Linked DNA regions of Homo sapiens. The protein of the gene in region 2 purifies or fractionates together with the protein of the main gene of each other region. This does not show direct contact. Each region holds a gene or a part of one and is shown on either strand. Other genes may lie near its edges. The genes, in order: GID4, RMND5A, RANBP10 and RANBP9.

Region 1 (7,394 bases), on a different chromosome or scaffold from region 2:
CACTTGAGGCCAGGAGTTTGAGGTCAGCCTGAGCAAGACCCCATCTCTACAAAGCACTAAAAAGCTAGCCGGGCATGGTGGTGTGTGCCTGTAGCCCTAGCTACTTGGGAGGCTGAGGCAGGAGGATCACTTGAGCCCAGGAGTTTGAGGTTACAGTGAGCTGTGATCGTGCCACTACACTCCAGCCTGGGCAACAGAATGAGACCCAATCTCTTAAAAACAAAAAAAAACAAAAAAAACCCAAACTTTAAAACATTATGCTAAGTGAAAAAGTCAGTCAAAAAAGACCACATTCTATTTATATAAAATGTCCCAAACAGGGAAATCTATAAAAGAACAAAGGAAAGTAGTAGTTGCCAAGGGATGGAAGTAGTAAGGGTGGATGATAGCTAAAGGGTGCAGGTTTCTTTTAAGGGTGATAAAAATGTTCTAAAATTGATTGTGGCAATGGCTGTACAATTCTGTAAATATACTAAAAACTATTATATTTACACTTCAAGTAAATGAATTGTATAGCAAGTAAATATCTCAATAAAGCTGTTAAAAAAATCCTTCAGGCCAAATGTATAACATTTAGCAAACTTTTTCTGCAAAGAATCAGATAGTAAATATTCTAAGCTTTGCAAGCCATACAATATCTGTTCCAACTATTCAACTCTGCCACTGTAGTGAAAGTAGCCATAGATGATATGTAAATGAATGCATGTGGCTGTGTTCCAATAAAACTCTATTTACAAAAACAGGTGGCAGGCTGGACCCTGATCTACAGACTACATAATCTCCCTCAATCCACACCACTATTCTATGAGGATGACAAGGCAGCTAATGCCTCGGAGGTGATAGAGAAGCTAAACATCTTGTCTTGGTGACAGACAACTGGTAAATAGCAGAGACAAGACTTCTAGCCTTGACTTCATCAGGCAGTTGCATTCAGCCAGATACGCTGAATAGATAGGTTTCTCCAGAACACCTGCCACTCTGGGAGTCAATAGACCTCTGATAAGCTGGTGCAGAACTAAACTGCCACAACAACCTCATATAGGTCTTCTTGTTGCAATATCTCCTTCTCCAACACCTCAGTGACCCTTTCGTAAACTCCTCCTCTCCTTCTGATAACCTTCAATGGCATGGCCATTCCTAAGTGGCCAAGTTCAATCAGCTTGCTGACTGAAGTGTTCATTGAGAAGAACCCACTGCGGTTTAATCTTCTACTACTTCAAATACGCACAAATATCTCACAACTGGTAAGGTCTTTAGAGAGAACACGTGGGGGTCGGGGGCCGGGCGCGGTGGCTCATGCCTGTAATCCCAGCACTCTGGAAGGCTGAGGAGGGTGGATCATGAGGTCAGGAGATCGAGACCATCCAGACTAACATGGTGAAACTCCGTCTCTACTGACAATACAAAAAAATTAGCCAGGTGTGGTGGTGGGCACCTGTAGTCCCAGCTACTCGGGACGCTGAGGCAGGAGAATGGCGTGAACCCGGGAGGCGGAGCTTACAGTGAGCCAAGATTGCGCCACTGCACTCCAGCCTGGGTGACAGTGCAAGACTCTGTCTCAAAAAAAAAAAAAAGCATGCATGGGCCTGATTTATGCACCTCCCTTCTCATTCATTCATTCCTATTTTCTTTCACATTTGACTACCTACCATGTGCCAGGTACTTCCAAGAGCCTAACTAGTAAGTTTAGGCTTTTTAAAAAGGAAAAGAAGGCAGTAGATCAAGTGCCACCATTATGTAAAGTGAGCATCCACAAATCTAAATTAACCCTTTGTGGTCAGGCATGGTGGCTCACGCCTGTAATCCCAGCATTTGGGAGGCTGAGGCGGGAGGATCACCTGAGGTCAGGAGTTCATGACCAGTGTGGCCAACATGGTGAAACCCCATCTCTACTAAAAATACAAAATTAGCCACGTGTGGTGGCGGACACCTGTAATCCCAGCTACTTGGGAGGCTGAGGCAGGAGAATTGCTTGAATCTGGGAGGTAGAGGTTGCAGTGAGCCAAGATCACACCATTGCATGCCAGCCTGGGTGACAAGTGTAAAACTCCATCTCAAAATAAATAAATAAATACGTAAATAAATAAATTAATTAACCCTTTGCTTTTTGCCAACTTGGTGAACTCCTGAATGTGTCCCCTTTGCTATGCCTCCCTGGGATGCCCTTCCTTTCTCTTCTTTACTGGCCCTTCATGGCCCATTTCCAGGCCCTTCCCCTGAGTCCTGCAGGTGAAACTTCAGCTCCCTGCTGCATCCAGCCCCCTTCCCCATTTCTATAAAGTTATAGAACTTGGCTGGGCGCGGTGGCTCACGCCTGTAATCCCAGCACTTTGGGAGGCCGAGGTGGGCGGGTCACAAAGTCAGGAGTTCGAGACCAGCCTAGTCAATATAAACCCCATCTCTACTAAAAATACAAAAATTAGCAGGGCATGGTGGCAGACGCCTGTAGTCCCACCTACTTGGGAGGCTGAGACCACAAAATCGCTTGAATCTGGGAGGCGGAGGTTGCAGTGAGCCGAGATGGTGCCACTGCACTCCAGCCTCTGTGACAGAGGAGACTCCGTCTCAAAAAAACACAAAAAAACAGAAGAAGAAGAAAAAAAAAGAACTTGACAGCCAGAAAGATCCTCAAAGGCAACCTAGTACTTCAACGCATGGAGAAAAATGAGGAAGTAGTTGCATGCCCAAGATCACACAGACCTCAGAGGTTCAGCCAGCATCAGATCCTAGATTTGCACTCCTGCCACAATGCCAAACTGCCTGTGAAGTTCTGGATTTTCTAAAACAGGCAGTGTCAGGGAAAAGTCCCTCATACCTTGCTGTCACCCTGGACACGTTCTAGATACCCAACACTCTCCCACCTTTTTGCTGAACTCCTACTCATCTATCATGGCTCAGCTTAAACAAACGCCCTTTCACCCAAGACCCATTCTAAACCCTGAACATCCCCAAGATGGGAGTAAGCGATTCTCTGTGTTCTCACAGTTTCTTTGTATGTCCCTTATCAGGATATTATAAACCACAATTTAATCAGAATATTATAACCTTTTGCAATGAACAGTGAACATCATTCAGGTGGGCCTTTTTCTTCTTTAATTGAGCTTCTCTACCAATACATACAGGTGGGTCTTAAAGACAACCGTGCCTCCTGCCTCCAGCACAATAAAACTAATTGAATGGTGGGAGGGTGTTACTGCTCTTCATTCACTGAAATGAGTCATTCTCACTCTTACCCTGACACCACTCACCATCAGCAATGAAAGAGCCACTACTTCTAAGCTTCATCAGAGTTGGAGGTGGAGGTGACTCCACAGTCAGAGGTGGAGGTGTCAATTTCTATTTAGGAGAGAAGGCTGCAGATGGCAGAGGTTGTGGTAGGAGGGAAAGTCAGGAAACCTGCAGCAGAAGTGCCCGGGATGGAGGAATGAAGGCCCAGGTTCTAGGTCCCTTCTGGGCAGGTCTTGTGTTGGGCAGTGGAGACACGGAAAACAGTCAGACAGACACCACAAACCTCTGAGAGAGTCTGCCTGTAACCCAGACGAAGTCCTGATTCAGAGCCCAAACTTCCCCTTTTGAAAACAAAGATGACACCTGCTTTCCTTATTAAAGGGAGGGCAGCCATAAGCTTTGAGAAAACCTGCACAGGCCAAATATCAATTACTGTATCGTGCGTGACTCGCTGTTCCCTCTCGGGTCGTCTGCCCTTGTCTGGGCTTCACTTTCTCATCTGTAAAAAGACCTGACTGGCCTGCATAACCTCATGAGCCTGAACCCTGCCTCAGTTACTTCGCTTTGCACAGCCGAAGCCCGAAGCCCACCTTACCCCAGCTCGGCCCCAACCCAAAAGAACATGTCATGGTCTTACCTGTCGGCGGGGCGTAAGCCCGGGCTGGAGACGGGATGGTTGGCCCCGGACTCATAGAAGCGCTGGGGCCACCCGCCGGCCGATTCAGGAGACGGCGTCCCCCGTCCCGCAGCCGGAGGCAGCTCCTCCACATCGCGCCCGAGGGTCTGGGAAGATGCGAGACGCGAAACCTGGAGCAGGAAACACAGAGCGATGGGATCCCCAAAGCCGCACGGTCGGGCTGTACGGAAACCTCTCAACGCCTCCTCAGAGCCCTCAACCTCCCTTGGACGCCGCCATCTTCCGCATGACACCTACGGCGCGCCGTCGCCGCCGCGCGCCTCCTGCGCACACCCCCAGTCAATCAGCATCACAAACGCACCTCGCCCCGCCCCCTCCACGCCGCGCCTCGGCGAGGAGACTACAAGTCCCAGCGGGCCGCTCGCGCACCGCGCCACGTGTTTTCTCCTCCCGCCAATGGGCGGAAGCGCCGCCTGAGCCTGCTCCCGCCCCCCAGGCTCGCCTGAGCCAATCGGAAGGGGCGGGGTGTGTGTGTGTCTGTGTGTGTTTGTGTGTTGTGTGTCTGTGAGTGTCTGTGTGTGTGTATGTGTGCGCGAGGGCAAGTCGGGAGGGGGACCCAGCTCAGGACTGGGAGGCCCTGCTCGCAGGTCCCTGGGTCCCGGTGGCGGCCGGAGCGCTTGCTCCGCAGGCAGCGGGCGGGTGGTCGCCCCTCCCGCCCCCACCCCGCGCGTGCGCGCCCCGGCCTCTCCCTCCCCGCCACCCTCCTCGGCTCCCGCGCGGCGGCGGCGGTTCCTCTCCCACTCCCCCCAGCCCTGGCTCCGGGGGACCCCGCGATGCCGGTCCGCACCGAGTGTCCCCCGCCGGCCGGTGCCTCCGCTGCCTCCGCGGCCTCACTCATCCCGCCGCCGCCCATCAACACCCAGCAGCCCGGCGTGGCCACCAGCCTGCTCTACAGCGGCTCCAAGTTCCGCGGCCACCAGAAGAGCAAGGGGAACTCGTACGACGTAGAGGTGGTGCTGCAGGTGAGCGCCGGGCCGGGCCGGGGCCCGAGGGCCTCCTCGCGGCGCTCACGGGCCGTGCCCGCTTCGGCTCCTCGACCCCGCAGCCGCGGAACAGGCCCTCGCCGCCGGGGCCTCCTGCACCCGGCGCTTCCCACCCGGGACCTTCCCAGCCTGTGTCTCACACTCTCCGAGCCCCAGCCCTGACCTGCCCCTTCGGACCCAGAGCCCGTCGTGACCGGCTCCTGGCGGACCCCGAACACTCCCAGACTTGAAGCCCGTGACCGGCCCGTCTGGGATCCGGAAGCCCCTCATGACTCGGAGAAGGCCTGGGTCCTTCCTCCCCATGACCTGTCGTCCCTAGATCAGGGACTGCCACCAGCCCTTTTCAGACCCTGAAGAACTCTCCATTGGTTTCACCAGACTTGGGACCCTCCCCATGTCTGGGCCCACGTCAGATTCTCTCAGACCTGAGACATGTCCTCCTGCCCCTTCCTCAGTTCCAGGAATCCGCAGACCTTGGGGTCTTCCTCCTCCTGAGATCTCCTTAGGAGGGCTTCATCAGACCCCCAGACGGGGGAGCACCTAACCCGCAACTGATTGGTCAGGCCCTGGCCTCACCTCAAGACCAGGCACTCACTCCCTGAGTGCTGCTCACAGTCTGTTGGGATGTTGCCTCCTGGGTCCCCTGTTCCACTCACTGCTTCTGTCTCTTCATGGTCCAGGCACCCAGCTCCTTCCAGCTTCTCCACCCCCAGGCCTCCTGCCCCTGCTCTGGGACCATTTGCAGTCTTTTCCCAGTCTTCCTGGCCTCTATCCAGACTTCCCCACCCCATACCTTCGTCTTGCTCGATCCTGGTTCCAGGGGACCCTCTTTCCTGTTCTTAACTTTTCTCTACACAGGCACAGGGCTTCCTCTTAGTCTCTGGTACCCATGTACTGGGAAATCTAACTCACCCAATTTTAGTTCATGTCCAGTCGCCTCCCCCCATTTGACCTGGATTCCTGAATACCTGCTGCCAGTCCCTGATCAGCTTCGGAAGTACAGCTTCACTTGTCTGGGCCTTTCCCACACCTCACTCCTCTCAGGCTTGACACTTTTTGCCAGCTGAAATGGAGTGGCAGTGGTGAATACTCTTTTATCTCCCCTCCCCACAAAACTCTTCCTCCTCTATACCTACCCCTGCCTGACTAAGGACCCCTTTCCCCTTCCCTTTGCCCTTTTTTTCCTTAGTCTGACACCTCATCTGCCAGGCTGTTCCCAGAAGCCCCTCCAAACACCTGTCCCTCTGAAAGGCACTGTGTGCTGCCCCACTGCCTCCCCCCCGCCCCACCCCCCGGGGTGTGAGGGTGGAATGTACAGTATATTTATTCCTCAAGCTCTCCTTTTGGTCATTTAAAACAAATCTTAGTTTCACTTCTGAAGAGTAGGTCTCCCATCCAAAAGACAATGAGGGTGCCTTTTCTTTCTGCTAACTGCGGAGCACTCATCACTCTTTTATTCTCATACTGCTTTGTGGGAATAAATCATTTTCTCTGCTTACTTGAAACAGCATCGTCATGTTAATCATATCTTTGGGCTGTAAAGTTCTATCATGAGCCACGATAGTTATTATAATGGAAATACGATTGTGGCTGAAATATTTTTGTCTTCATAACTGTATGCCTAATGTAGTGATCCTCTTCTTAAAATGTGAGAGTCGAGTATGAAGGTACAGGGGTTTTTCGGTTTGTTTTGCACCTAGTCATAGAATTCTGGAGGTGAGATCCCTGGGTGGGTCACGTTTGGGATGATCTTGGATTTGTCCCTGTTGTTCAGTTTGATGGTTTCTGATGTAGTAGGGGACAATTGGCAAGATAGCCAGGCGTCAAAGGGGAGTCTGCTTTGGCTACTGCAGCAACTGCTGCTCCCTTCTGTCATTAGGGTATCACTTCTGAGCTCCTTTCAGAAGGAGAATCATGAACCAGGGGAAGCAGTGGTTGAGTTGGGGCAGGGCTGATAGGTCTCAGGCAGCCCAGAGCAGAAACCTGGTGGATGGCTGGGAGCCACTTGAGTAAGATGTCTGATGGTGGGGGTGGTGGTCATGCCAATGAATGCTGCCCTACATCTGGATTGGTGAGCTGCTTGGTCATCATCACGACTAGTCAGTGGCATGTGAATTGCCCCATCATCTGGTTTTTCAGCCAGGACTAGTTTGTCAGACACAGCCTTCTTAGACTTAAAATACTTCTGCCTTTTATAACTCAGCTTCTTTTTGTTTGTTTTGTTTTGTTTTCTTTCTTTCTTTTTGTATCTTTATTTAGATAGAATTCACTTATTTAAGGTGTACAATTCAATAGTTTTTAGTATATTCACAGTTGTTTAACCACCACCACAACCTAATTTTAGAATATTTTCATCACCCCAAAAGGAAACCTTGTATGTAACCCTTAGCCATAACCCCCACTCCAATCCTAGGCAACTGCTCATCTATTTTTGTTGTTGTTTGTCTATTCTGGACATTTCATATAATCACATAGTATTTGTCCTT
Region 2 (6,298 bases):
TAAAACAATCCCCTACTCAGAAACTCGGGACTCAGCCAGGTGCAGTGGCTCACGCCTGTAATCCCAGCACTTTGGGAGGCTGAGGTGGGCAGATCACTTGAGGGTCAGGAGTTCGAGACCAGCCTGGCCAACATGGTGAAACACTGTCTACTAAAAATAAAAAAAAATTAGCTGGGCATGGTGGCACATGCCTGTAATCCCAGCTACCCGGGAGGCTGAGGCACGAGAATCGCTTGGACCCAGGAGGTGGAGGTTGCAGTGAGCCGAGATTGGGCTACTGCACTCCAGCCCAGGCAACAGAGTGAGAGTCTGTCTCAAAACAACAACAAAAAACAACTCGGGACACTGCTCAGTCACCTTCTCTTCTCACTGTTGGTGGCACAGAAACACAGTAAGATGGGGACAGATATTTTCTTAAATTCTTGACATGCAGACCCTTAGCAAATACAGACAGCAATTTTCTCTTCTCACAGTCAGCACCTCCCTACTCCCTCCCTCATACCTTTGTCACCTGGCACATTTATACAGACTGGTTCCACAAAACACTTTTTAAATGTGCATTTCTTTAATTTTTAAAAATATACACAGGAAAAGCCATGTGTTTTACATAGGAATACACACATTAACAAAGCATTTCTTATAGTTTTCCAAAACTCTATTATATCAGTCCGAAATTTATAAATTAAATATATCAGAATTCTTAAAGTTAAAATGAATTCCCTGAAACTACTGGATATGCTACTTTTTCCAAAATCAAATGAACAGAGGATATGGATGTGGTTTGTGTTAAATAAGGTTTATTGTTAGCTTTATTGCCTATAGTCTATAAGATGCAACTTTACTGTGCCTTTGCAAACAGGATACATTTCTTAAAAAATTGATCAAAATTTTCCATACATATAGCTCTATATGATAGATTACAGTGCAACACTATTCTCGTTACATAATTATAGAAATACTATAGAACCCAAGAGCACGGGGTAAGCAAAATAAATACAATCCTGAGCCATCTGAACAAGATGATTTGATGAATCCTTTAGTGTAAGTTTAGAAAACACAGAGAAGGAAAAAAATACATGCATACTGCAGTCATGAGCAAAATACATCAAACACCTGTTCCTTGCTAGGTGCAGGTGGGGGCAATGGTGAACTTCAGACACATGCACACTCACTCACACTCCCATTTTCTTCTGCTTCCCTCCCAGCCCCAACACATTCATTCCCGCCCCTTCCCAAAAAAAAGATCAGGCACTAAATCCTAGTGAACCCCACAACTGCCTTGCTGGAGAAGGTTAAGTGACTGCTAAAGTAAGAGTGTATGTAGGTCCTCACCCATAACATGAAACAAAGCATGTGCTGTAAGCCAATTCCAGCTGCTTTTGCCTCTTTGGAAGTAAATGAAGCATATGCCCACTACAGCTTGAAACTGCAGTGGAAATGTCTTGAAAACAAAATTTTGTTTCTCTTGCTATGTCTTGAAGTAAAATCAACAGTGGAAAATTCATCCTAAAACTGCCTCATCTGCTATTAAAATACATTTGTCATTCTATTTTTGGTATCTATTCAATTATAGTTCATTAAGAACGGTTCATGAAGCTTGTACCTGCTTATGGTAAACATCAGTGTACCACACAAAACCTGCCACACCTAGACAGGCTTATGAAACACCAAATCTTCTATGTGTTCCTTGCTAACATTCCCTCAAGACCACAGCATTCTAGTGTTACCAGAGATAAAGTACGTATAGTTAAGTGATGAAAGAAAGGTATTTGGTTTGTGTCGTCACCTTATACATCCTAGTGATGAAACTAACCAAACTATGCCTCCATGCCTTCCCTGAAAATAACCTGAGTCGGCTGACGAAACAGACTGAGCAGCGTGGCTCTCAGTCCACTTTATCAGAGGTTGAGCTGGAAAACCAGAGGGCTAATGTAGTCTACCAGCAGCTTGTGCGGATAACCAAGAGTTCTTGGCTGTTGCAGTATCCACTGTCCCAAAGGCTAAGCCACTGAGGTGGAAATCAATCGCAGCATAAAGAAGACTGAACTTAAGCTGCATAACCTGCGAGACTACCTGGAGAGGACAAAAGAGGATCAGGATCCTCATTTCCCACAAAATGTGGTGTGGGTTTTAGTGTCTCTATGCATTAGCTGCTACAGAGAAGTTAACATTTACTTCATAGCTTTCTTATTTTCAATTAAATGCTCACACTCAAAAAATACACACCCTATGAATATGAGGTGGCTCTTTTCTTCAAATTTTTTAAAATAAAGAGGCACCAATACCCGTTCATTTATGTATTAGAAGTCTCGTATAATCACCAATAAAACAGAAATAGCATCTGTGATCACACAACGGAGAAAAAAGATCAAGAGACAACCTTAGCCACTGTAAAACTGTACTTGAACACTCAGATGCTCTGGCTAAGTCAGAATCTAAAGATTTGCTAATAAGGTTTTATTGGTTTAGCATAGTCCCATGGCCTTTGTCTATAACTGATATGTGGAAACGGTTCCCAAGGAAATTTAAGAAACCATTCTGAAATTCTGCCTTTGATGTACATTATAATTAAATGTGACTGTTATAAACGTTGCCTCTATCATATTATCTTTTGTAAAGTGGAGGCAAAGAGAGACAAAAAGCATCCTCCTGGACTGCTGACATGCAGAAAGCATCAGCGATGATAGGGTTGTGACAGCATTTATGGAGTTTCTAGGGCAGGGGGGACAGAATGCTGTATCTCAGCATCTTTGGTTAAGGTCTGGCCTCTTTAAATCCACCTCTCCCTCACATTTAGTCTCTCATGAATTTTAAGTCCATGCACTTGAAGACGGTCACAAGATATAATTTCCATATAATATGTCAGATTCATAAGAGTTTCAGATTTTTGGTCCTCACCCTGCCCAGTGGGAGTACACGGGCCTTACACAGAAAGCTGCAGAGTCCAATGCTTCAGTTAAAGCATGTTCTTTTCAAAGTTTTCTTGAGCTGCACAAAAAACCGTCAACAGTTTTTTGGCTCCCAGCACTGGGAGAGGGATAAAGCTGAGCTCTGGCTTTTGTCCTTTAAAGTGGCCCAAGCCGACTGTATGAAGAGTCTGGTCATCAAACACATTTACCACCAGCCTTCAGAGTACATCTGTCTCATTCAAACCTTACAGGAAGCCTAAACGTTGTGTAGGTGTTTGGGTGGAAAGATAAGAATAAGCTAAACTTGGCCTAAGGAGAAAAAGGGTAAAAAAAAAAAAAAAAAAAAAGAAAGAAAGAAAAATACAACACTCTAGGTTTTAATTCAAAGGAAAAATATATATATAATAAACTGGTTTACACCCTTGGTCAGACTGTTGCCTGGAATTCTCTACCTTCTCTTTCACAGTCCAAAGAGTTTGTCTCTGTTCTCTTCCTTCACTGCTTTAGCAAAGAGAGGGGGAACTTCAAAGAGGATTCCAACAGTGAAGCAGAATCATGGGGCAAAAGTCGCTATGGGGCCAGACTGAGGTTGGACCACACAAGCACTCCAAGCTGGGCCAATCCCAACCGCTGGTGAAGCCGCACAGCACGGAGTAGCCATCCACATAGGCCTGGCCACATGGTACTCAAGCAGAGGTTTTCCACAGTACTCTTTCTCCTCACAAACAAACCCCAGCTCTCCCAGGTAAACATTTTAGAAAAAACATCCAGGCTGGTGTACTACTGTAAAACGCTGCCAGTTTCTAATTAACTTAGCACCAAATCTGTGATTCCCCCTCCCTCAAACCAAGTCCATCTGTAGTTTAAAATGTGAAGTGCCACATTTCTCTTTGCTTCTGTGTTTTCATTTTCTTTGAAAGTATTCCTATTGATGTTCACTCCATGTCAGAAGAAATAAAGTTGCAAAATATTTGGTGATTTCCGTGTAACGTTCTTCTTATACTGAAGTAACTTCATGGGTTTCGGTCAGAATTATGTCCACAGAAGTCTTTTCCATGTAGTTCGTCATACAGAAAGACTCTTACACATGGCTATTTTTGGACAGTGCATAAATGAAGATACCTCACAAGAGAAAAGATCATTATCTGTATCCATCAGAATAATATACAGATTCACAGTCAATGAGATGATACGCTTTGCAGAAGAGAGGCATCAAACATTATACTATTCAAACACAAAAACAGCAATAAACGTTCTGCACTACAGAAAATTTGCTAGCTTCTAACTTTAAGGATTTAAAGTGATGGGTCTGGTAACTGCATTTTAGAACTGGAACATGCTGCTTTCCTTCCAGATACACAATGTTTGATGCTGGTGCACATATACAATACACACATGCACAACACTGTGTCTGCAATGATATAATAGGGCTACCAAGACCAAGAGAGTAAATATCAACTTAAGAACACTTCTAACTTTAGAATTTCATTTTATTAAACATACTTTTAAAACAAGCACCTCTTGGCAATAAAAGCAAAAACAAAAAACAAACAAACAAAAACCCAACCAAACAATAGTACTCCTTCCACTCTATGCTAACGGAAGACTTCTCACACCAGCCAGTTAAACAATGAAATTCTTAAACACGCAGCCTGCTGGGGCTGCATGCAGAGCTAAAATGCAGGTGTGCTGACTTCTTGGAGCTGGAGCAGAGGAAAACATCAAAAAGCATATCTGGAATCTATCACAGCTTTCTTTCTTAAGCAAATAAAAATGCAAATTAGTTTCATAACCACAATTCAATTTATCAAACTTTTTCTGAAGAATTTTCATTTAATTATGTATACATAACAGGAAATAAAACTTTTTCACAAACACTCTCAAGGCTTACGATTATCAAGAAAATGACAAAAGTAAAAGCAGGAGGAATATTAAACACATGGCGGGGAGGTCAATTTCCGTTTCTGCTCTTAAAAAGTAAAAAAATCACCATATAATTAAGTACAAAAACCTGCATTGAATGACAACTGCTGGTGTATTTACTTGATCAGAAATGAAGACCAAGAATATAATAAAGCCCTATGATAATATTCACCGGGAGCACTCCCCTCAGTGTGTGTACACTAACAGGTTGGCAAAGTTTCTGGAGCATTAGCTTATAGAAACACAGGAGTCCTTGGTTAGCTGCATTATATGGAACGTTCTCTTCTGAAATGCACCCACGATTCAGTTTCACTTACAAATTGCAAACTAAAGTTATCTCTTCAGAAAAATATCTGTTTGGCATCTCCTGGACTTTGTTCCATTGGACAGTAGGGACATTTTAATCTAAAGACAAAGAAGAAAACACTGAGTGAAGGAGCAGGCTCAGTACTGTGTATTCAATTTTTATCTAGTTATAGAGTATCTTTAACAATTATACACACATATAAGAACACACAAAAACAAGTCTGTTTGTATTTTGCTTTGAGGATGAACTATGCTTTCCCTTAATATAACTGCCAAGATTTGAAGGGTCACAAATACATACCACCCATGCCAGATCCTAAATTGTTTCTTAAACAAAACAAAGGTAACTTTTCTGGAAATTGTTTTTGGGGTTTCGAAAATAAATTCAATTTCTCTTTCCCAAAGGTTTAGGTTGCAACAGTCTTTAAATGAATTTCAAATGTACTGGTCACACAATCCATTCAAGGGCAGCAAATCTGATGGCAGCTACAAGCCCACACCAAGAACGGCCCACATGCCTCACAGTGACACATGAAACCAGTACAGCCTGAACTAAGATCAACAATTTTGGCCAGGCAAGGTGGCTCACACCTGGGAGGCTGAGGTGGGTGGATGCTTGAGCTCAGGAGTTTGAGAACAGCCTGAGCGACATGGCGAAACCCTGTCTCTACTAAAAATACAAAAATCAGCCAAGTGTGGTGGTGTGCGTCTGTAATTCCAGCTACTCAGGAAGCTGAGGCATGAAAATTGCTTGAACCCAGGAGGCAGAGGTTGCAGTGAGCTGAGACAGCACCACTGCACTCCAGCCTGAATGATGGAGTGAGACTCAATCGCAAAAAAAAAAAAAGCTGAGCTCACTAACTAAAATAAATTACAAATGCATATATCCTTTGAACCAGCAATTTCAGTTCTAGGAATTTATGTATCAGGTATAGATAATTCACTTAGCACTATGTTTTTTTGTTTTGTTTTGTTTTTTGTTTTTGTTTTTTGAGATGGAGTCTTGCTCTGTCGCCCAGGCTGGAGTGCAGTGGCACAATCTCGGCTCCCTGCAAGCTCTGCCTCTCGGGTTCACGCCCTTCTCCTGCCTCAGCCTCCTGAGTAACTGGGACTACAGGTGTCCGCCACCACACCCGGCTAATTTTTTGTTTTTGTATTTT
Region 3 (4,038 bases), on a different chromosome or scaffold from region 2:
CCTGGGCAGGCCAGTGACCAGGCCTTGTCTTTCCTCCACAGAGTCCCAGAACCTGCCAAAGCAGCCCCCTCTGATGCTCGCCCTGGGCCAGGCATCTGAGTGTCTCCGGCTCATGGCCCGAGCAGGCCTGGGTTCTTGCTCCTTTGCCAGAGTTGATGACTACTTGCACTAGCTGACTGTGCTGGCTGGCTCTGGCTGGCCCTCCACTGGCCCCAGGGCTGGAGCTGCCCTGCCCTCCATAGGCAACTGGTGCAGGGACTGGGAAACCATAGACAGAGTCCACTCCTCCTGCCTGGCCTTTCCCCCTCTCCCTTTCCTTCCTTCCTTCCTTTCTCTGCCCACCACCCCGCTCAGTCTCTCTCTCTCTCCCCTTCACGTGCAGCGGCCTGTAACACAGTATTGGCTGGTTACTCTCATGTAGCGCCTTCTATTTTGAAAGGGGGGTTTTGTTTTGAGGAGGGGTTGGGGTTTTTAAATTTTTTTCTCCTGACTGAGCCACCAGTATTTATCTCTGGAGAGTTTGTGCTGAGCTGGTTTCTGCTAATTTAGTGATGAAGCCTATCCAAGTTGGTGATAGCTTATTATTTTCATAAGTAAAAAACAAATGAGATTATATATATATATATAAAAATATATATATTAAAAAAAAAGACAGTATTTATCGTAGCATTAGTGGTCCAGCACCTCTTGGGTGAGGCTGTCCAGGCACCATGTTTTCTTTGAGTCCAACTCATTAAAAAAGAAGAATCTCTGTCACCTCAGCCAAGTGATTTATTTTTTGCTCCCCCTTTTTTGAGTCACAGGCCGAGCTGCAGCCTAGGAAACCCAAATAGGGTTTGGTGGGCCACTTAGTGGGCATGGTTACATTGGTTTATAGCATCCCAAGAACTGTAGATCCCTAGGCCCCTGAGAGCTGGACAGAGCAGAGAACTACAGGGCCAAGGGTCCAGAGAAGTGATAACTTGGCCCAGGGCCACACAGCAGAGGTAGAGGGTCCTTGGCCAGCACACTATCTACCACTCTACCCCACCTCCCACTGCCTGCCTTGCTCCCCTTTCCTCCCTTTTCAATACCCTATCTTCCCTTGTTGTTAAGATGGCCAAATAATACATTTACTCTAAATTGATTGCCTGGAAACTACCTGCCTTCGTCCTGAGAGCTTCTGTGTGTCAGGCTGCTGGAAAGAAGACTCCATTCCCAGGACAGAGGCCCTTGAGTACAGGGGCTGCTTTCTTCCTGCCTAGATCTTCACCATCTCTGCACAGCTCTGAGAGAATGGATGCTTTCTGTTGAGAAACCAGTACCTTGTGGAGGCAGGTTCTTGGGCTGCTACTCCAGGGAGTGGATGGAATCCTTGGTCCCCTAGGCCAGACTTCACTGCCACTGTGCCAGACAGCTCCCTGCAGCTGGGCCCTAGCCACTCTTAGGAAAGACTATTGGGAGTATTTGCTGGCCAGAGAATGGGACTCTATCAGCTTTACACATGTCCCACCAGCTGTTTCAGATAGATCCTTACAGCTGGCAGAGTAAAAGTGGTCCCGCTACCATTGGGGAATCAGGAAAGGAAAGACTGAGATGGTTGCCAGGACTTGGGGTGGCCCACCTGTGGAGAGGACTGGCTGCCCTGGAGGAGGAAAGGGAGGAAGTCTACACAGAGGAGCACCAGGACGGCTGGAATTTCCATATGTGCTTCACATTGTGAGGGGAGTGCACAAGCCGCCCATGCAAAGAGTAGGGTCAGCCATGGCAAGGCCGGAAGTTGAACTTTCAGTCCCTGCCTGAATCTGGGCTTTGCAAGCTCCTGCTCCATATTGGTGGACATGGGAATGGTTGGTGTGGCCTGAGATACCCATTGCTCACCAGGCCTCACTGGGCCCACAGCTGGGCAACAAGAAAAATGTTTGAATTGGACCAACTGCTGGTGATGGGGCCAGGGCCCTGGGCCCTGTGCTGTCAGAATTCTGCCTTGGGAAATGATCCTATAGCTGCTGCTTTTTCTTGGTCCTTGGGGCTGGCAGACCCATAGACCATGGCCTGTTAGGAGGCGTCCTGTCTGTAAAGGAAATTCATCTCTTGTGACAGCCTGGGGCTACCTAGCTCCCAAACCCAGAAGTTGGAGACATCAGGCTGTTTAAATGATCATAGCCTAGCAGGATTGGATTAAAACCACAGGCTTTTGCAGCTGGAATGGGGTTCAGTGAACATCTCCCCCATTCCTCTCTTGCTACAAATAAGGAAACAGGCCCAGGAGATTAAGTGACTTGGCTAAAGTCACATAGCAAATTAGTAGCAGAGCCGGGACTATCCCTTATCCCTGTGGGTTGGGCAACACTATTTAGTCCTGAAACCGAATGGCAGATAAACCCCATGAGGGGTCAGGCTGATGTGCCCTCCAGCAGTATCTGAGAAGCTGCTACCTTCAGGGGTGTGTCAGGGATGAGGACGGGTGCCTGAGCTTAGGTTGTGGAGTGGCTGAGAGGGCCCAGGAGGGCTCGGGACAGCTGTGTGCTGCATGGGGTTGGGTGTCTGCCTGGCTCGCACTTGGTACCCATGGCCACCTCCCCATTTTCTGTGCCTTATCTCACTGTTTCAGCTGAGTCCAAGTTGTTTACTCTGTTCCTCTCCAGAGGGGCTCTCTGTCCCAGTTGGGCAGCTCACCTTTGGGACATAAGCCTTTGCCCCACAAGCTGTGGAGAGGGCCAAAACCAAGCTGCTTGAGCCCACTCTCTTGCTGAGAGTCCAGGCCTGCCTGCCTGCCAGCCAGAGGTGCCCCTTATGCACATCCAGTCCTACCAGCCTGCTTCCAGGAGCCTAGAGTGGGAAAGGCACCTGGGGGAGCCCTGGTGAAGGGCTGGACCTGACCCATGGAGGCAGGAGGAAGACCTGGCTTTCTTGGTTTGTCCGGCCCTGGGGAGCAGCCTTCCCTACTCACTTTCCCCTTGCGGCACCAAATGGTCACTCCTTCCAGAGCAAAAACTGGCACTCATAGCAAGCCAGAACCCCCATCCCCATCCTCATGGGTCTGTGGCTGGGTGCAGGCCATCAAAATGGACACCACGAGACAGAAGTGGGGACTGCCTGGCCACCTAGCGCCTTCCCACTCCTTAAGCAAGCACAAAGAAGATGAGGCAGAGAATTGTCAGAGCTGAAAGTTCCTTTGGTTGCTCACAACTCAGGTATGCACCCATGTGGCAGCCAGGCAGCGGAGCCCTACTAGACTGCCAGTCTCATGCACCCAGACCTGTGGCCAGATTGTGGCCTCTGGCTGCCTCAGGCATTTTCCTCTTTGCATTGGGTTTTCCTGCATTAGTAACTACAGCTGCAACAGACATCCTCCACATTGTGCACACTGGTTTTGCCTTTGTCCTCAAGAGTTGATACTTGGCATTAGCATGAAACTTGTGGGTGTGGGAGGATGGAGAGAGAACTCTAACACAAAACATCTTATTAAAATTGTACTTGAGAGACAAAAAAAAAACTCTGTTGTATTTTGACAGAATTATTTTTATTAAAATACACATCCATGAGCAGTCATGTGTGTCTGGTCTCTGTTTTGAGTCTTACTGAGGTTGGCACCCCTTCTGTGACACATCCTGTCCTAAAGGATTTGGGCCCTTCCCAGCCTCTCAAGTGCCCAGGCCCTCAGGTGCCTTCTTCAAGGACCTTTGAAACTGTGTATTTGTAAGACCCCAAAGAGGACAGGTACTTAAACCTCAGTTCTCTCTTGAAACGGCTTTCTTCTTATACAAGGAAAAAGTAGCAAATTCAACTAAAGAGCCTGGGCACAGTGGCTCACGCCTATAATCTCAGCACGTTGGGAGGCTGAGGCAGGTGGATCCCTTGAGCTCAGGAGTTCGAGAACAGCCTGGGCAACATGGCAAAACCCCATCTCTACAAAAAATACAAAAATTAGCTGGGCATGGGGGCGCATTCCTGTGGTCCCAGCTATTCAGGAGGCTGAGGTGGGAGGATCACTCGAGCCCAGGAGGTCAAGGCTGCAGTGAGTTGAGATCATACCACTGCACTCCGGTCTGGGTG
Region 4 (3,885 bases), on a different chromosome or scaffold from region 2:
ACATTCTATTTGCATTTATATTAGCCGGATTCAACTACATGCCCTTACCCAATAAAAAGGGTGGGTGAGGAAGAGAAAAGCAATTTAAAAGGCGAGGCTTAGCCAGGGGTGAGCATCAAGTGCGAAACGCTAATTCGATGTTCGTTTGGTTGCCATTCCTATGAGCAGCTCACTGTAGCGTTTGTGATTATAGTATTTATATACTGAACAAGTACTTTTTATATGAATTGTGTAACTGCACATATTGTGCATTTCTATATAAATGTGATAGGGTCGATTGTTTACATAAAACAAGTTTGAGTTTTGGGCAGTTCTCATCAAAGGTAATTTATATAAAGAGTGAGTTTTCATTTGACTTCAGAGTCTAATTCCCAGGTAATTGGGACTCCAGTCTAGTTTAGAAGTCTGTGCTGTGCTGTTTGGCCCTGCAAGGTTCAGGGACTTTTAGTCACATATTTCAAACTAGTTTAGGAAGATGAGGGCAGTGCCACAAAAAGTAGATTAAAGAGTAGTTTAGATAGGGAGACTTGCAATGAGGGCCAGGACTCTTACAGCAAGAATGTAAAGGAAGCAATGAAAAGCATTCATATTTAAGACTCAGTCTGTTTCTTTGCCCTTAGAAAATTTATTAATTTGTTAAGGACCAATACTGAAGTTTGGGAATAGGAGTAGTGTCCTCAGTGTTGTAGTTCTCCGGAATTTAGGATTTGTATATAAATGTGAATTTTCTTTGGTTAATGTGTTATATTTTCATTGGTTCTACAAAATTCATTTAGCTCCGTTGGTAAAAGTAACTTAGTAATAATGCTGGAATTGTAAGGAAAATTATGGTTTACTATAAATGTCTTTTTGAAGTTATATTGTAGGTAATCATTAAGACCTAATTATTAGATGATACTAATCTTTAAAGTGACCAGTTTTCTTACAATTTAGTTTCTTGAGTTCTTCAAGGGAATTTAATTGTTGAGCACCATTATCTATAGACACATATACTCTTACATATTGTGCTATATTATGTAGATTCAGCCATAAATAGTGCTTAATCTTATTAATATAAATGTATGCGATTCCTGTAAAATTAATGACACAATTATTAAACTGCTATAGATGGGCATGTATATGTTTATAAATACCATGCTATATTATGTAGGTCCATCTATATAGTGTTATGAAAATTTCATACATCCAAAAAAGTTAAAGATGCATCGCCAGATGCTTCCTTTGGCCAAAATAAAATTAAAAAAATATTCCCTGTAGATGTTTGTCTTTGAGCACGGTCTTCCCTGTGAACCCTCAAGACACCACACTTTCTCATCAATCTATGTGCCCTTTTTTGCACACGTTTATTCTTAATCCTGTTTTTGTTTTCTCTTCTACCTTTAAGTCCTGAATTTGCTTCTTTCTGATATTGTGCTTTTTCCCTTTTGGAAATTTCCTCTTCTTTCTTCCACCATCAAATTGCATCCTCTGAACCAAGAGTGGAGTTAAACCATATGAAGCCTTCCTAGCCATGTGTCAACTGTTTTTGCCCTTTGTTGTCAACTGTGCCTATAAAGAACTGATTAGTAATTTTATTGATTAGTTTGGACATTGCCTTCTCATAAAGAGAAATTACCAGCTTCTGAGTCTGGCCACTTTTACCATTAGTTCATTTTTTTCCATCTCTGGCAAGGAACAAATTTTGTTAATTATTGCATTTGTACTACAAATGTCTGACAAAGAAACTTATGATATGCAGGACCCTGAAAATTTATTGGCATTTTTTTAAATGTCTGAACTGTCCACTGTAAATTAGCACCTCCAAAACTGTGGGGTGGCTCTGCTGTATGTTCTCTCACTGTCACCACCACCACTTACTCCCCACCAGCCCAAATAACATTACCTATATATGCCTTGGAGATGGCTAGGCAGCCTGTTTGGTCCTATCCACAGAGGTGGAAGAACCCATCAGTGGAAACTTGTAATGAAAACCTGGTGCCTTTTTTAGTTTTAGTTAGTATCAACTGACTTTGATCAACCAGAAGGGAAATAATTCCTTACTCTCCACTCCAAATATCAGATAAAAAATTGTACCTTTCCCATCATAGTTAATATGGAAGTATTTTAGTATCTGATACTTTAAAAGTCTGATTCTGCCAGAGTTTATCTTATAGTTGAATACACAATACCCACACTACCTTGTCAGAATAGTATGTCCAAGGCGGCATCTGTCTTTTGCTTAGAAACCTTCATTTGCTGATATTTCAGAGTGGTATGGGAGTGGTAGTTTTTAAAGTCATTGCAGTATTCTCCTGATTGAAATGTTTTTTAAAATGTCTTGCTAATTGCTGTTCTCATTTTTAAATTATTTTTCCTCAGAAACCCACAATCTGCCAAAGCAACCTCCACTTGCCCTAGCAATGGGACAGGCCACACAATGTCTAGGACTGATGGCTCGATCAGGAATTGGATCCTGCGCATTTGCCACAGTGGAAGACTACCTACATTAGCTATGCATTTCAAGAGCTCACACTTATATTGTGGCATATAGTCAACATGGAAGTAGACCAGCTCTGCTGATTTGAAATTTAGATTTTTTAAATTATGTACTGGGGACAGGTTTTTGTCGCTTTACATTGCTTCCTAGTTTACAGCATGATGCAAATGATTTTCTAACTTAGTGTTAGGAGAAATTATTTTCCATCTTTAACCTCTTAGTTGTCTAAGAGTTAAATATTACTGAATTTCAGACGTTCAAATTGATCATCACAAATCCTTTAAAACAATTACCTAAAAGAAACCAAAAATCCTGCCTTCTTTGTGGGGGAGGGGGGAGAGAGGGGAAGGAAATGGAACAAGTTGTGTTTGTGTTAGCATGTGGGTGATGTAAACTTCAAATTGGGAGATGTTCCGACCCCCACTCCCATATAAGCATTCAATCAGTGTAACTTGCAAAATGCATAAACATCCGACAGTTTGAATTTATAGTGTTGATGGAAGAAATCATTTTTAATGTGTACTGTAAAACTTGAAATACTCAGGAGCTGAGTGAATATGTTTGTTGCTACTTACAATCCCGACCTGTTAGTCCCAGTAGTTTTGTTTTAACATGGTCTTTTTCAACTTTGTTTCCTGTTTAACTACAGATGACTTCTGTTGTAGACTCACAAGTTTAACTGTTGTATTATAACAGTATTACATGTCAACGGTGTGGTTATGACCTTTATTTATATAAAAACCAAATATTTAGTCAATTTACCGTGTCTTAATTTAATCTTTGTACACCTTCCATTTTTAAGTGCTTAAATGAGTACTATATTGCAATAAAATGTAGTGATATAATTAACCAGCCATTAAAAATTTACTTCTACAGATACAGTGTCAATTGAGTTTATATATTAGGTACTTGCATACTTTTTATGATTACTATGAAAATTAGAGCAATTAAAATTAATGGTTTCTACAATTAATCTGAGTTCTACAACCTAAAATTGCCTTCAGTTTACTGGCATCCCTGGATTAGGGTTAGACCTGATATTGTGGCTGACACAGAAAGGCAACAGGAAATTAACTTCATTATTTTCATATTCATAATATGGCATATGAGACTCACCAGGCAAGCAAATCCCCAGACTGGTTAAAAGTAAAAATTTAAAAGCTGTTAGCTATATTTTGTGCACTGAATCTTTAATAGCAAATTGTCTACAGGCTGCAGTTAGAGACTTTGCTGGAATATCCATTTCTCCTTTTAGTCCGTGCCATTTTTGCCACCCCTCTAACCCGGGGAGAGTAGAAGAGGTGCTGTTGCTGATGTGGGTATGGCTTGAATTCAGTTAAATATATTAAAAAGAAAACAATTCCTTCTTAAACCACTTTTTCCTCTAGGATTGCAAGGCACAGTTCTAC

What was found.
Region 1: the proteins of RMND5A (region 2) and GID4 purify together in Homo sapiens (affinity purification with mass spectrometry; 6 studies listed by BioGRID and IntAct, with this or other methods). This does not show direct contact.
Region 3: the proteins of RMND5A (region 2) and RANBP10 purify together in Homo sapiens (affinity purification with mass spectrometry; 6 studies listed by BioGRID and IntAct, with this or other methods). This does not show direct contact.
Region 4: the proteins of RMND5A (region 2) and RANBP9 purify together in Homo sapiens (affinity purification with mass spectrometry; 11 studies listed by BioGRID and IntAct, with this or other methods). This does not show direct contact.

Annotation. Positions count from the first base shown.
Region 1 is NC_000017.11:18,035,016-18,042,409, forward strand, and holds the start of GID4 (glucose-induced degradation protein 4 homolog), read left to right. Parts: upstream 1-4,392; 5' UTR 4,393-4,449; coding exon 4,450-4,887; intron 4,888-7,394. Other genes in the region: ATPAF2 (ATP synthase mitochondrial F1 complex assembly factor 2), read right to left, coding at 3,866-3,998.
Region 2 is NC_000002.12:86,772,287-86,778,584, reverse strand, and holds the end of RMND5A (E3 ubiquitin-protein transferase RMND5A), read right to left. Parts: intron 5,238-6,298; coding exon 5,174-5,237; 3' UTR 544-5,173; downstream 1-543.
Region 3 is NC_000016.10:67,722,562-67,726,599, reverse strand, and holds the end of RANBP10 (ran-binding protein 10), read left to right. Parts: intron 1-41; coding exon 42-172; 3' UTR 173-3,530; downstream 3,531-4,038. UniProt on the Homo sapiens protein: May act as an adapter protein to couple membrane receptors to intracellular signaling pathways.
Region 4 is NC_000006.12:13,620,966-13,624,850, reverse strand, and holds the end of RANBP9 (ran-binding protein 9), read left to right. Parts: intron 1-2,358; coding exon 2,359-2,489; 3' UTR 2,490-3,353; downstream 3,354-3,885. UniProt on the Homo sapiens protein: May act as scaffolding protein, and as adapter protein to couple membrane receptors to intracellular signaling pathways. Acts as a mediator of cell spreading and actin cytoskeleton rearrangement.